Homo sapiens: one gene and its partner. The protein of the gene in region 2 interacts with the protein of the main gene of each other region in a pairwise test. Each region holds a gene or a part of one and is shown on either strand. Other genes may lie near its edges.

Region 1 (7,807 bases), on a different chromosome or scaffold from region 2:
ATTTTCTTTAGCTTGCCAACTTTTGAATTTGTTTCATTTTTCCAGATTATGAAAGAAACATACATAAGATTTAGAGAACTATAAAGACATACAAAAAATAGACACCCAAAGACTTGAAATTCTCCTAATTTGTAAAAGATAACTTCTGTAGCCTGCCTCTCTGCACATAAATGCAATAGTCAGACACACCACCAATAATATTTTGGTGCAGTTTTTCTAGTTTTTGTTCTATGTGTATGCATTAAATTGAAATACAGGAAGTTACCGATGTTCAACCATTTTGACCCATAAAATGGCAATTTCATATTTATTTATTTGAGACAGAGTCTTGCTGTTGTCCAGGTTGGAGTGCAGTGGCACAACTAGGACTCACTGCAGCCTCAACCGCCCTGACTCAAGTGATCCTCCCACCTCAGTCTCCCAAGTAGCTGGGACCACACATGGGTGCCACCACATCCAGCTAATTTTTTTCTTATTTGTAGAGACAGGGTCTCACTACATTGCCCAGACTGGTCTCAAACTCCTGTCCTCAAGCAATCCTCCCACCTCAGCCTCGCACAGTGCAGGGATTACAGGTGGGAGCCACTGCACCCTGCCTGGCAATTTATAGTTCAACCTACTGAATTCCCACATACCATACCATGTGTATTTTACATCATATTCTTTTCATGTCATTCTAACAGCACCACTTGCCCATGTATTTATGGATTCTCGGGCTCTTCATAAGCTTGCATTAACAGCACAAATAATTGATGAGCATTAGCATCTCAGCTCAGAGCACTGCTTTGTAAATCACTGGAGCAGTACAAGTAGGGCAGACTTCCCAAGTCTTGATGCGAATGACAATCCTCAGTGATTCTTCCAGGAAACTCTTCCTATAAATTCCCTTAACCAATTGCCTGCATACAGTGCCTGGCACCTGATTTTCTGCCCCAATGGCAGCTTCTGGGAATGCTGCTAATAACTATGTTTAGATGTTCATCTCTTGTTCCTCTTTTACGAATCTGGTCCATTACCTGTGATGTATATTCAGTTTGTAGCGTATCTTACTCTCCAATAAAATGATGCTCTTTTGTTTTCTTTGTTGTTATTGTTTTTCACGGTTTCTGGATCTTTCAGCCAGGTACAGTCTACTGGCACTAAGAGAGAGAGGTGACTATATTTTTGAGCTTCGCAGGAGGAGGGCTGCTCTTACGGTCCTGGCTTTCTCTCAGCAAACATCATCAGGACTATCAGCTCTCTGTCATTTCATCACAGAAAAGTCCCTGAGGAGTCCATGGACCAGGTGGTTCCATCATGTTGTGATCCTGCCTCCAAAGTGAATGCCCAGAGACGATAATCTATGTGGGTCCTCTCTGGACCAGTCGATCTGGGACTGAGTACAGCTCTATTCCCAATTGGGCTTTAATTTGCTCTACACTTGGCTGAGTTCAACAATAGCCTAAGAAGATTATGTGCCCATTCAAAAGCCCCATTTACGTAAGGTTTGGGAGCTTATGATATAAGATCAACTGTCATTGGTAATAATAACCTTATGTCACTCCAGATGCAACAGCTTAAAAGGATAGACTTTAACATTTTGGCCCCAAGAATAAAACAGTAACAGGAGACTAGAACATTTAAAGGTAATCTGTAGCCTACAAACACATCAAAGGGTAGAGAAAATAAGGCAAAAAACCCTACAAAATTAGATGACATATAGCTTCTCTTATCATCAATACATGGTAATCTACTACACAGAGAGGCAGTGTGTCCTAAAACCTAACACCCTGACTTTGAGATCAGATTGACTTGTGTTCAAATCCTCACCCCCTTAACAGCTGTGAACAGCCCCTAGATTGTTTTCTCTTCTGTAAAACTGAGCTAAAACACCCACTCTGTAGAGTGATGGTAAGGATTAAAGAGAGAATATATATAAAATATTCATCGTACTTGAGCTTGATAATAGCAGTTACTGTAACTGGATATACACAAAACAAGAATTTTTAATTTGATCTTTTAAATGCTTATTATTGCAAACATGTCATTGTGACATTAATAAACTTTTAAAAAACACCCAAACTTACTACTCCAAAAAAATGACTAGTTAATTTTCCCATATTTCCTTCCAGTCTTGGTGAATGTGTCAACACCATGTTTATACAATCTATTTGTGTTTTTAGCTTTTTTTTTTTTTTTTATTTGAGACAGAATCTCGCTCTGTCATACAGGCTGAAGTACAAATGGTGCCATCACAACTCACTGCAGCCTTGACCTTCCTGGCTCAAGAGATCCTCCCACCTCAGCCTCCCATGTAGCTGAGGCCACAGGTGCATGCCACCACACCTGGATAAGTTTTTTTTTGTAAAGATGGGGTCTTGCTATGTTGCCCAGGCTGGTCCTGAACTCTTGGGCTTAAGCTACCTTCTCACCTGGATCTCCCAAAGTGCTGGGATTACAGGCATGAGCCACCTCACCCGACCTGTTTTCTGCGGTTTTTTTTTTTTTCATTTAACATTGTACCGTGTTTTCCCTGTTGCAACATGGTCTTTTTAACTTAGTGTAAGATAGTTATTATTTCAACTAATATACCATAACCTAATTAATCATCCCTCTGTTATTGAGTACTTAGTTTGTTTCCAATTTGGGGAGTATTCTTTCATTTTGTTCCTGCTTCTGTTATGGTGATTTAAAACGCATGATTTTTAAAATATTTAGGTCTTTCCTTTAGGTGTAAGCATGTTCCTAGCTCAAAGTTGAGGGCATCGTTTAAGCTAACAGCTGTTAGCTGTGGGAAAAGAAAAGGTAATTTCAGTCTAGGGGTCAGCAGATTAAGACAACTTCGAAAATTCACACATCCTCCGTTGACCTCGGTTTCCTCATCTCAGCAGTTGGCAAACTGGCATGAGGATGACGGCTGATTTTGGTAGGCACTCAAGAAATGGATCTTTAAGGTGGTCTAAACACGTTCACGTTCCTTATTTCACTCAACTTCCACTCGGGTGCCCAGATCGAAGCGTAGGTATTCACAATGGTTGAAGCACAGAGAGGATAAGGCAGTGGGGAAAGGACAGAGAATGCCTCCTGCTGAGCCCGGGGGCGCTGGGTGGAGCTCTGCGGGGGGCGTCGCCTGCCCCTCCAGGGGGCTCCTCCTTCCGGGGGCTCCGGCCCCGCCCGGCTCCGAGCATGCCCAGTGCGCTCCCCGCCCGTCCGAGTGGTGCTGAGCGGGCGCCGCGGCTCCAGGTTTTGCTGGCGACTCGAGGCCGGGCCGGGCCGGGCGGGGCGCGGGCGGTCCTGCCCCTGGACTCCGGGCTCCGTCGGAAATCCCCCCGACGCGATGCACGGGCGGCACCCGCTGCAGCGGCGCTATCCCGGGACGTGCGACTCCGGGACAAGGACCGAAATGAGGTTCCAGGGGCTGCCGAGGCCTCAGTCTATCCCTGGAACGACTGCCCCCAGGACCTGGCACCCAGGCCCGACTGGAGGGTTCCAACCATCTCTGCATCCCTTCGTTCACATATTCAACAAATAATGTTTGAGCGCCTAGTGTGTGCCAGACAGTGTTGCAGGGGGGTCACTGCAGTAAAGACAAGCAGAGCTACAGCCCCAAAGCTGACATTTAGGAGGGAAATACAACATGAGAATTAAACAAATCGGAGGAAAAGCCAAAGTGACCAACCTCATCTGCTCCTCTGCCTCCTTGCCGTTCCCTAAGCGGTCCGGCGCTCTTTTGGGTCTTGGCACTGGCTGTTCCCTCGGCCAGGAATGCTCTTCCCTGCTTATCTGCGTGGCTGAAATACCACTATCACCTTCTCAGTGTCACCCAATCAGACCGTCCATCAGCTCAAGGGCCCTATCCGACCGCTTCACTGAAAATTCACTGCTTACCTCCAGCCCCAAATCTCCTGACCCTGCTCTTTTTCCTCTTAGAACTTATCACTTTCTAATATAATGCATAGTTTGCTAATTTGCTGTTTATCTGTTACCTGTCCCTCTTTCCCCAAACTCCACTGGGGGACAGAATTTTTGTCTATTTGTTCCCCACGCGAGAAAAACCAGAATAGGTGCTCAATAAATATTTGCTGAAAATGGATAAATCACTGTTAAATGCTATGAAGAAAACAGAGTACACGGAGTGGTCAGGAGCAGAGGGCTAATCGAGGAAGGTGGTCAGGAAAGGCCTCTCTGAGGAGGGGACCTATGTACAATGAGAAGGCGCCGGCCACGTGAAAAGCTGGGCAAGAACGTCCCACAGAGGGAAAGGCGGGCGCCAATGTCCTGAGGTTAGTGAAGTTCGAGTGTTTGATGGACAGAAAGGCGCTCTAGGATCCGCAGGAAGGCAGGTGTGAGATGAGACGGAGGTGGGAAGCAGGAGCACAGATCAGGTAGGGGTCCCACGAGCCTTGGGGAGGTTTAACCAGGGAAGCTTACTAGTGCCAAGGGACGAGCACTGGACTGGAAGTCAGCGGGACCTCAGCTCAACCGCGCACCCGTCGTGCAAGACTCCTCATTTCAAAGTTTCTTTGGGCGCCGACTTCTTGCCTTCCCTAGGCATGAAATCACTGAGGGCCTGGCACACAGTAGGTGCCCAGTCATGGCTGTGGAACGAATGGCTGCATGCATGCGCGAGGGAACTCAGGACCTGCCCGGAGCTCGGCGGAGAGCCCCGGTGCCCCTAGGAGATGCGTCGGGGCGCGCCAGCCCGGGGCGGGGGCGGGAGAACACCGCAGGCCAGCCCGGACGCCCGCCCCCCGCCCGGCGCGCGGGCCCGTCGCGGCCAGCCCGGCCGGCGGGAACCGCCCGCGGGCGGCACTGGGCATGCTCAGACGGCGGCCAGGTCGCGCCGCGAGCGAGCTTCCGCGCCGCCCGCACGCGCGACCTACCTGGGCGCTCCGCGCCCCCGGATGCTGCAGGTACGGGCCCGTGCGACCCCAGCGGGCCGGGGGCAGGGTGCGGGGCTGCCGGGGGCCGGGGTCGCGCTCGGCGCCACCCCGCCCCCACCCGTCCCTGGGGCGCGCGGCGGACGCGCGGGCGGGCTGGCGGGTGCGGCTGCACCGGGATCCCCGCACCACGTCGGGGCGGGGAGGGGGCGCCCCGCTGCGCTCACCTGGCGGGGCCGGGGCGGGAGGGCGCGGGCGGGGCGCCGGGTGGGGCTCGGCCGGGGCGGGCTGGCGGCCGGGACGCGGCGCCGGAGCGTGGGCGTGCGCTCCAGCCGGGCAGGGGCGGGCGCAACCCGCGGAGCCCGTGCGTCCGGCACCTCCGGAGGACCCCGTGCCGCCGCGACCCCGGCTCGGGGCTCCGAGGGGGCACACAGCCCGCGGGGAGCTAGCCGAGAGCGGCTGCCAGCGCTCGGCTCCCAGGGCGAATCCGCCTCTCGGCTTTCAAAGATGGCATTTCCTGGGCCTGGCACGAAACTCCAGAGCCAATAAATCCTCCCCGTTCCGCGGACGATATGGAATGATTTATCAGGTACCTGCGGTGAGACAGCTGCAGATGGGGGAGTGTATGTGAGAGTGCCCAGCCCCCCCGAAATTCCCATTTTCAGCTACCTAAACTTACTGAGAAGTTGCGGTTGCCTTAAAAATTCATGGGAAGTTGAGACAACTTGACACCTGGGTTTTCCAAGCTGGTGGAAAGAGCTTGTGACTTGGAAACTGGAGACCTCCGTTCAAGTTGGGCTCCCCCTTGGCCAGCTGGTGACCTTGGCAAGTTGTTTAACCTCTCTGGTCCTCAGTTTCCTCCCTTGCAATCAGCTGGTAATAATGCCCACCTCGCTGGGTTGTTGAGTGGATTAAGTGGGATAAATTATGTGGAGGTGTTTGGCACCGTGCCCGGCACAAAGCTAGCAAGCAGTTGGCGTGATGTGAATTTAATTCGTTTAGAGACCCTCGTGGCTCTCATTTCAGGAGGAAATTAGAATTAGGAAACCATCTTCAGGGCCTAGTGGTGGAGTGACAGACCCTGTCTCTGTGCCCAGGAGAACTTCTGCCGAAGTCAAGGCCTTCGGAAAAACAATTTAGCCGAATTGTAATCAGAGAGCATCTCCTTTAAAAGCAGTTTTATACATTCAGAAACTCCAGAAGTTGGCAGTTGGCTTCACTTACAAAAGAGCTGTTTTGCAAGATGATCCATCTTGCAAATGTTTAAGCAGATGATGGGAGAAAGTAAAGCCTGCTTAGGAAGATTTCTGTTTTAAAAAGCTCCCAAATCCAACTTTAAGCGATTATTTAGATCAGGGTTTCTCAGCCTTGCACTATTGACATTTAGGGTTTGATAATTCTTTGTGTCCTGGGCATTGTAGGGTTTAGAAGCATCCCTGGTCTGTAGATTCCAGTAGCAATTCCTGTTCCCCAGTTGTTCCAATCAAAAATGCCTCCAGTATTGTCAGATGTCCCCTAGGGAGCAAAATGCCACCCCAGCACCCCTTTAGAACCACCAATTTAATTCTTGCTTTCTGTCATTAGCCCGAGTTGTTTGAGAATTTCATCTTGTGCTTTTGTAATAACTAACCTTTGCATAGCCTTATAGAACTTACAGAGTACATTCACCTGTATCGTCTTATTTAATCTTTACAACTCCCTTGTGAGACTGGTGTCACTCCCATTTTACAGATGAGGACATGGAGGCTCTGAGCAGCCAATTACACAGTATGTGGTAGAGCTGGGGTGTAACCCAAGTCTCCTGGTTCCAAGGGCAGGTCTTTTTCTTCTGCATCAAGCTGCCTGTCCCTTTGTTGTATGGAGGCTTTGATATGGATGACTTTCCGGATGATTAAATCAAGATGTGAAGTATATTGGAAGTTGGAAACTTTTCTGAGATTGACTAGTTGAAAATTAACAACAGTAAGCTATTATCTGACAGAGTAGGCCATTCTAGTTAAATATTCTAGTTTATAGCGAGCTCCCATAAATCCCACATGCAGTTAATGGAATACCAATTTGCAGAGAATTAGAGTAGAATAGAACGTGCCTAATACTCTGTATTGATCCTGCGTTTTCTCTGGTGATTTGCCATCTCCTAAAAAGGACTCATATATGCAAATTAGACATTAGCTGGGGAATATAAAAGGTCAAGTTACTGAAGGCATTTCAGAGTAGCTGAGGCATTTATTGAACTTCTGTATGGCAGATGTAGTGCTGAGTGGGGATGTGGGGTGCACCCCAGAGAATCCAGGTTGCCTGCATCCACTTCCGTGCAGGAAAGGGCAGGCCCTGGTCAGGCCAGACAGGTGGTGGGCCCTCAGACAGCTTGGAGCAGGAGAAAAAGCCCAAGTTACCATGGAAGCAGATTCAGGATCCCTTACCATATCATCAGTCATGTCTCTGACCCCTCGATTCATCTTTTATCATACAGAAGATACTCTGGTAGTTTTAAGCATTCTCATTCAAGTCTCAGAGACCTGGTTAGGGAGGCAAGGTCAGAGACAAATCTTATCCCTGGAAAAAGCTGGGGTTCCGAGGTGGTAATTGGCTTCAGAGAATTGAGAGCAACGCTTTGTTGGCTGTGAACTGGAAGGTTTCACACACAGTGGGGTTTGTTGCTGCCAAACCCCACCCCATTCCCCACCTTGCAGATAAGGAAACTGAGCTGGCAAAGGTAGAGTGGGGCCAGGAGCAAGAGGGACCAATTTTGACCTTCTGAACTACAGGTCCAGGCACACAAGAGACATTTTCTAGGACAGGCATAACCTACCAGAAGGGCTCAGCTTTGGGGATGGGAGGGAGTGAGAAGACATGGCACCCTGCCTTTCCCCAACCCTCCGGGTTTGTGGTGGTTGAGAAAAGACCAGCAATTTGTGGTCCCTACATCTTTTCCCAGGAGAGCTCAC
Region 2 (7,018 bases):
GGGAGCTGAGCTAGGCACACACCAGGGAGTGTGTGTGTGTGTGTGTGTGTGTGTGTGTGTGTGTGTATGTGAGAGAGAGAGAGAGAGAGATCAGGGAGAGGGTTGCAATGAATCTCTGGATGGGGTAGGAATAAAGAAACACTTGCCCCTCTCTGGAGAATGCCATGGACAGGGGGCAAGGACGGAGTTGGAGCCACATTGACTTGGAGATTGCCAGGTGAGACCTTCAGGGCAAGCAGACTAGACTTCTGCAGGAAGAGCTCTCGTGACACACAAACCTCCACGGAAGTCCGCCTCCTCAGGAAGGCTGCACCCTGTCCCAGGCAGCCAGAAGCTCTTCTCCGTGGTTACTCAGCCCCACGTGTTCCAGCATGAGAACATACTCACTGTCATGGGGTTCATGCTCCAGGTACCAGCTAAGGTCTATCTTCATATTCCCAGGGCTTAGCAGACACAGGCACTCAAATATGGAATGACGAGTGAACAACTGAGTAACTGAATGGTCAGAATTTTCAAAATGCAGATTTGCTGTTAGGAGTCTTAGGTTTACTTCCATTATGCAAAGTTGGTCTCACCGGATTTCCCCTGATAGTGTTCCCCAGCCTCACATGACTGTACATTATCTAGGACGATATTAAGTACCAACTGAATGCGGGCACTGTTGGGGATATAACTCAGAAAGTTTTACCATGATTCTGCTCTTAAGCAGGTTAGCTGACTGACTTCCATATTCAATTCTGTTCAAGTCTTGAAGCAGAGCTCCAAGGGGAGCCAAATGGGTGGGTAGACAGAATTTCCAGTGGATAGTTTAGGAGCTCCCTTGTCTTGGTGTGAAGTGAGGATCCCTGAGCCACCTGGAGAGTGTTGGAACACAGTGTGGTCATCCAGGAATCAAAGGGAGCCCCATCCTGGTGCTCTGGCTACTGCAAATAATCCTTGTAAGCCGATCTGCTTAGCAGAGTACTAGAAAGGAAAATCCAAAGGGCAAGATAAAAATATATCTGTGGTATTTAACATGGTGGTGGTTGGAGATGTCAGCACGTACGCTGTTACACAGAGTCCGCATGTTACCGGGAAGCCCAACTTGGAGGTTTGTAAATCATATCAGAGTTCCAGCTCTCCTGTTTATTAAATGCATACTGTTGTGCAGGTCATAGATTTTTGAGCCTCAGTTTTCTTACCTCGAATGATTGTGAGGGTTAAATGAGAATCAGGTATGTGCAAACCCTTGCTGTATCATTGCAAGGTGTTCTTCAAAGTGGCAAGTGTTCTGCACCATAGACCAAGGGCATATTCTTTTGCTGTCTATACTCATTTCCAATTATAAGTACCCTCCCACATCCTCTCTCCCACTTGTTGATGGTACCTGTTCTTTGTTCCCCTGCTGCTCTCTGAGGACCAAGCAGGGGATAGTTGGAGACCTAGAATATCGGAACATAGATAGTCACCTTCATACCCCTCTGCCAAAGGCCAGAGATAGCACTCCAAGGGGCAGGGGGACCCAGAAAGATCAAGTGGTCTCAGCGGAGGCTCTCTTTTTTTTGTTGTTTTTTTTGTTTTTTTTTTTGAGACTGAATTTCACTCTTGTTGCCCAGGCTGGAGTGCAGTGGTGCAGTCTCGGCTCACTGCAACCTCCGCCTCCTGGGTTCAAGTGATTCTCCCGTTTCAGCCTCCCGAGTAGCTGGGATTACAGGTGCATGCCACTACACCCCGGTAATTTTTGTATTTTTAGTAGAGACGGGGTTTCATCATATTGGTTAGGCTGGTCTCAAACTCCTGACCTCAGGTGATCTGCCCACCTCAGCCTCCCAAAGTGCTGGGATTACAGGCGTGAGCCACCGCGCGTGGCCAAGGCCCTCTTAAGTACGCTCTGCCCTGGATGGCTGCAGTTGTTCTGGTCTGTATAAAACCTAAGTTCCAGGATTCCTTATACCCAGGGATACCAAGGCCTAGGGGACAAAACCCTGAATGAGGACCTGAGAAACCTGAATCTATACTTTGTTCTTTCACTCATTAGCTCTGCAACCATTAGTAAGTCTCTTGCCCTTTTGGGGGCATCCTCAGTTTCTTCTTTTGTAAACCGAGGAAAAATAGAAAAAGTTCTTGTGTGCCTAAAGCTAAATGTAAGTTATGAGTTACAACTTCTTCCTCTTTCAACAAAGGGCTAGATGGGATGTGGCTAATCACAGGTCCAGGAGAGGGCACAGAAGTCACCTGGCCATGGGGCTTAGTTTCAGCTTTAAGTTCTCATCCTGGAGACCAGAAGTGTGGTGGAACCCAGTGGACTTCTGTATGAGATTATCTTTGATGTTGTGTTCCTTTACCTGACTCCAAAAGAGGATTTTTCGTTTAGGACCTGCTTCTTCAGTGAAAAAGCTTTGCATTAATTTTGTTCTTTTTTTCTCAGTATCCAGCGAGCAGCATTGGTGGTCCTAGAAAATTACTACAAAGATTTCACCATCTATAACCCAAACCTCCTAACAGCCTCCAAATTCCGAGCAGCCAAGCATATGGCCGGGCTGAAAGTCTACAATGTAGATGGTATGTGCCTTGAAAGGGTGTCCGTGGTGCTCACAGGGGCACAGTTGGGTGACTATTTAAGATTCATGGTACGTTTGGTTCGACTTCTTCTCTGGGCCTACCTTTATGGTACATTCTTGTTTCAGAACAATTTCTCTTTTTTATGTAGGCAGACACATGTTTAGAGGAATGTTGATTTACCATCTACCTGTGTTGGAAGCCTGTTCATTTTGGGATTTTATGATTGAAAACAGCAGCGGTGTGTGTTTCCTGCCTTCTGCCAGGATCATCTTATATTGGAAGCTGTTAGGAAAGGGTTGCTTTTCAAAATTGGTGCACATTACCCACAAACTCAGAAAGCTACCTAAATCATTAAGACTAGAAATCTCAGTAGTCCAGGCATCTGGTGAGATACCTGCGGGCACTTCTTACTCGTGGCTAGGAGCCGGAGTTGAGTGGGTGGCAGGAGGCTGGAGGCCAGGCTGGGTAAGTCCAAGCTATGTTTCAGGGTATCACATGGTTAAGTGCAAGAAACAGGATGCGGTGTCATTTCTTCCTGGGTATGTTGGGTGAGGGCAAGAACTTTGCAAACCCTAGGAGAGGATTATATTTTCAACAAGTCAAGTGATTTATATACAGTGTCAGTTTTTGTTGGCAATATCCTTTCAGTTATTTGTTTGTTCATTTTTTTTTGGCTATATGAGGTGTGAGCTCCCTCACGAAGCCTGAAGGATTGATAAATTTCACCTGTGATCTAAAAACTTAGGAAAGATTCCCACTAGTGAAACCAAGTCACCAGCCAAGTAGATCATCCGTAAGAAAGCCTGAAATCTGCCTATGTTTCTGAAAAGTTAAGGTGGTCAGTGGTCAGGGGACAGGACAGGACTTCTGAGTCTGTATTCATTAACGGGTCACGTTGCACACCCTCAAGCATTGGTATTTCCTAGAAAAGTTGTGGCTGCCATGACATTCTAGCATAGCTTGCTTTCCATTGTAGACTCAGTGTCTCATGTCCTTTGACTTTCTTTTTTGTCTGTCTGTCTGTCTGTCCTTGGTCTCCCCATCCCTCTCATTCTGTCTCATTGTCTTGCTGAAATTTGATGTCCCAGCCGCCCTTATGGCCAAACTGAAACTTTATGTAACAGATGGTAACATCTTCAGCACACTCTATGTGTTGTTTTTGGCCAACATTTTAATTGCCACCGTTCTTCATGCCCTTCTGAGTTCTTTTTCCATTTCCACTGACCAGATTGGGGTTTAGGGAGATTCCTCTGCTCCCTTGCTTTGGACATAGTGAATGTGGAGCCGGGGCACAGTTCACCCTCCTGGGAAGTGACCTTTAGGATTTGTGTGTGTGTGTTCCATAGGGGGTGGGTAGACAACACTGACAGATTGGGTACTAGTTTTCTGCTCTGTTTCCCACCCTCGTGGTATTAACACTATTCTTTCACTGTCCTTTCCCCAAAGGCCCCAGTAACAATGCCACTGGCCAGTCCCGGGCCATGATTGCTGCAGCTGCTCGGCGCAGGGACTCAAGCCACAACGAGTTGTATTATGAAGAGGCCGAACATGAACGGCGAGTAAAGAAGCGGAAAGCAAGGTATACTGCCCTCCTGATGCCAGTACCCTCTTACAGACTTTTAAATTTTTATTTTATTTATTTATTTATTTATTTATTTAGAGACAGAATCTCACTCTGTTGCCCAGGCTGGAGTGCAGTGGCAAGATCTTGGCTCACTGTCACCTCTGCCTCCCAGGTTCCAGTGATTCTCATGCCTCAGCCTCCCAAATAGCTGCGATCACAGGCGCCCACCACCACGCCCGGCTAATATTTGGTATTTTTAGTAGAGATGGGGTTTCGCTATGTTGGCCAGACTGGTCTCAAACTCCTGACCTCGAGTGATGTGCCTGTCTCAGCCTCCCAAAGTACTGTGATTACAGGCATGAGCCACCATGCCCGGCCTCTTGTAGACTTTCAATCTTTCCTTTCTTACCACTAGAATGAGGTTTCTGTTTAAAAACATGACCTGCTGGGACACCTTTGGAGTGCACCTTGCTCCAGTGTTTCTCAAACTGAAGCCTGTATGAATATCACTGGGAGGGCTGTTCAAATACAGGCAGCAGGTTCTGGGCCCTGCTTGCAGAGACCCTACCCAATAGGTGTGGAGTTGGGCCCAAGAAATGGCATTTCTAACAGATTCCTGCGTGATGCTGATGCTCCTGGCCCCCAGCCCATACTTGAGTGGGTCTGTTCTGCACCCCTGGACCCTTGCTGGTGTTCACCGTCAGGTCATATTCACTGAAGGGGACAGAGGTGCATTCCATCATGTGTGCTGTGCCTCTTCCTGTTTCCCAGGGGCTGCTGGTGTGGGTGGCTGGACCAGGGAGCACGCAGCTCTGCTTCTTTGTAGGGCTGCTTCTGCACCACCAGCCACCTCTCTCTGTACAGAGCCTTTTATAGCCAGTCGGAGGGGCCTCAGAACTCTTTTCATCTAACCATTGCAGAGATGAAAAAAGGACTAGTGCATTTCCCAAGCTCATTGGTGGCAGAATTCAGAACAGAGTTCATCTCCCAGTCCTGGGGCTCCTTTCCCCCAACCCCTGGGGCCCCTGTTCCACATGTTATTTTTGCTGTTGCCTTTCTTTCTCCCTTCCTCCCTCTCCACTCTCTGAGGGACAGCTAAGGATGCAAGCAGCGTGATTGGGCCTTGGGTATGTTGGCAGGTTGGGCCGCAGCAGGGTAGACAAGCGTCATTCTGTTCTCACACCCTGTGGCAGGCACCATCCTGATTACTTAGTGTTGCATCACCTTCTAGGCTGGTGGTTGCAGTGGAAGAGGCCTTCATCCACATTCAGCGTCTCCAGGCTGAGGAGCAGCAGAAAGCCCCAGGGGAGGTGATGGACCCTAGGGAGGCCGCCCAGGCCATTTTCCCCTCCATGGCCAGGGCTCTCCAGAAGTACCTGCGCATCACCCGGCAGCAGAACTACCACAGCATGGAGAGCATCCTGCAGCACCTGGCCTTCTGCATCACCAACGGCATGACCCCCAAGGTGCGCTGCTCCGGGCGGGCTCTGCCACCGTCATCCTGGCTTGTCACTGAGCTTGGCCAGTTGAATTATAGCGTGTTACTAGAAGTGATAAAATCGAAAGGCATCTCTAAAACTCAAGTAATAAGAATTAGTGATTCTCACTTATTTTATGTTATGTTAGTACAATTGTTTTTTTAAATGTGCCTTTCGAAGGCCTCTGGATTCTAACAGAGGAGAGAATTTCGCTTGGAGGACAGTATGGAATAGTGATTGGAGACAGTATGGAATAGTGATTAGGGGTGCATTGTGGACTCTGGAGCTGAACTGATTCATTCTAACCTGGCTCCTCCACCAACTAGATGCATAACCTTGGGCAGATGGCAATAGCTCTGTGCCTCAGTTTCCTAACCTGTTAATTGGTTAGGATAATACTAATAACTATCTCATTTGTATGTTTTGGGAACTGAAAGAGCAGGATACACATATAGTGCAACATATAAACAGAGGTCCTTATAAAAAACAGCTACCAAATGTTACACGTGTACCACATGCCAAGCTCATCTACTCTCTACCATGCGATTTACATGCCTTGTTGCCATATTCAATGTAATTCTTACACAACAACCCTGTCAGAGAGATATTATTATTATCCTCATTGATACAACAGCAAACAAGTGTAGAGGAACTGAAACAGTTAATTCATGTGAAGTGCTTGAAACAGTACCTGTCATATGATGAGGATGGACTAAATAGCTCTATTTATTGGTAAAAAATAGAATGGCGTGAACCCAGGAGGCAGAGCTTGCAGTGAGCCAAGATCGCACCACTGCACTCCAGCCTGGGCGACAGAGCGAGACTCCGTCCAAAAAAAAAAAAAAAAAAAATGCCATCAGGCATTTTGGGTGTTACAGAATTAGTTTTACTGAGTGGTCTTTTAGATTATGATATTTAGGACACTTTAAGAAGTGTTACAAGAAACAGCCATGTATCTAATAGAGAGTTGTGGCCAAGGAGGCAAACTAGAGTAAAGATACAGCAAATGACTTCTCTACAGAGAAGTGGGTTCAAATCCTGGCTCCACCACTTAATTGTTTTGTGACTGTGCACAAATTACTCTACCCTCTATTAGATATATGGCTGTTTCTTGTAATATCCCTAAAAGTGTGCTAAATACTGTAATCTAAAAGACCGTTTGGTAAAACTGACTCTGTAACACCCAAAATGCCTGACAAAGCCATAGCATTATTTTTACCAATAATAATAATAGCAATTTAGTCTGGCCTCTTCATATGACAGGTACTGTTTTAAGCACATCACGTGAATTAACTCTTTCAGTTCCTCTACACTTGTTTACTGTTGTATCAATGAGGATAATAATAATATCTCTCTGACAGGGTTGTTGTGTAAGAATTACATTGAATATGGCAACAAGGCATGTAAATCGCATGGTAGAGAGTAGATGAGCTTG

The links. Proteins that work in one complex are often made in the same cells at the same time.
Region 1: the proteins of VANGL1 (region 2) and PTPN3 interact in binary tests that used the Homo sapiens proteins (3 or more experiments, as listed by UniProt).

Annotation. Positions count from the first base shown.
Region 1 is NC_000009.12:109,495,304-109,503,110, reverse strand, and holds the start of PTPN3 (tyrosine-protein phosphatase non-receptor type 3), read left to right. Parts: upstream 1-4,803; 5' UTR 4,804-4,892; intron 4,893-5,174; exon of another isoform or gene 5,175-5,448; intron 5,449-7,807.
Region 2 is NC_000001.11:115,679,957-115,686,974, forward strand, and holds part of VANGL1 (vang-like protein 1), read left to right. Parts: intron 1-2,407; coding exon 2,408-2,541; intron 2,542-3,987; coding exon 3,988-4,120; intron 4,121-5,336; coding exon 5,337-5,571; intron 5,572-7,018.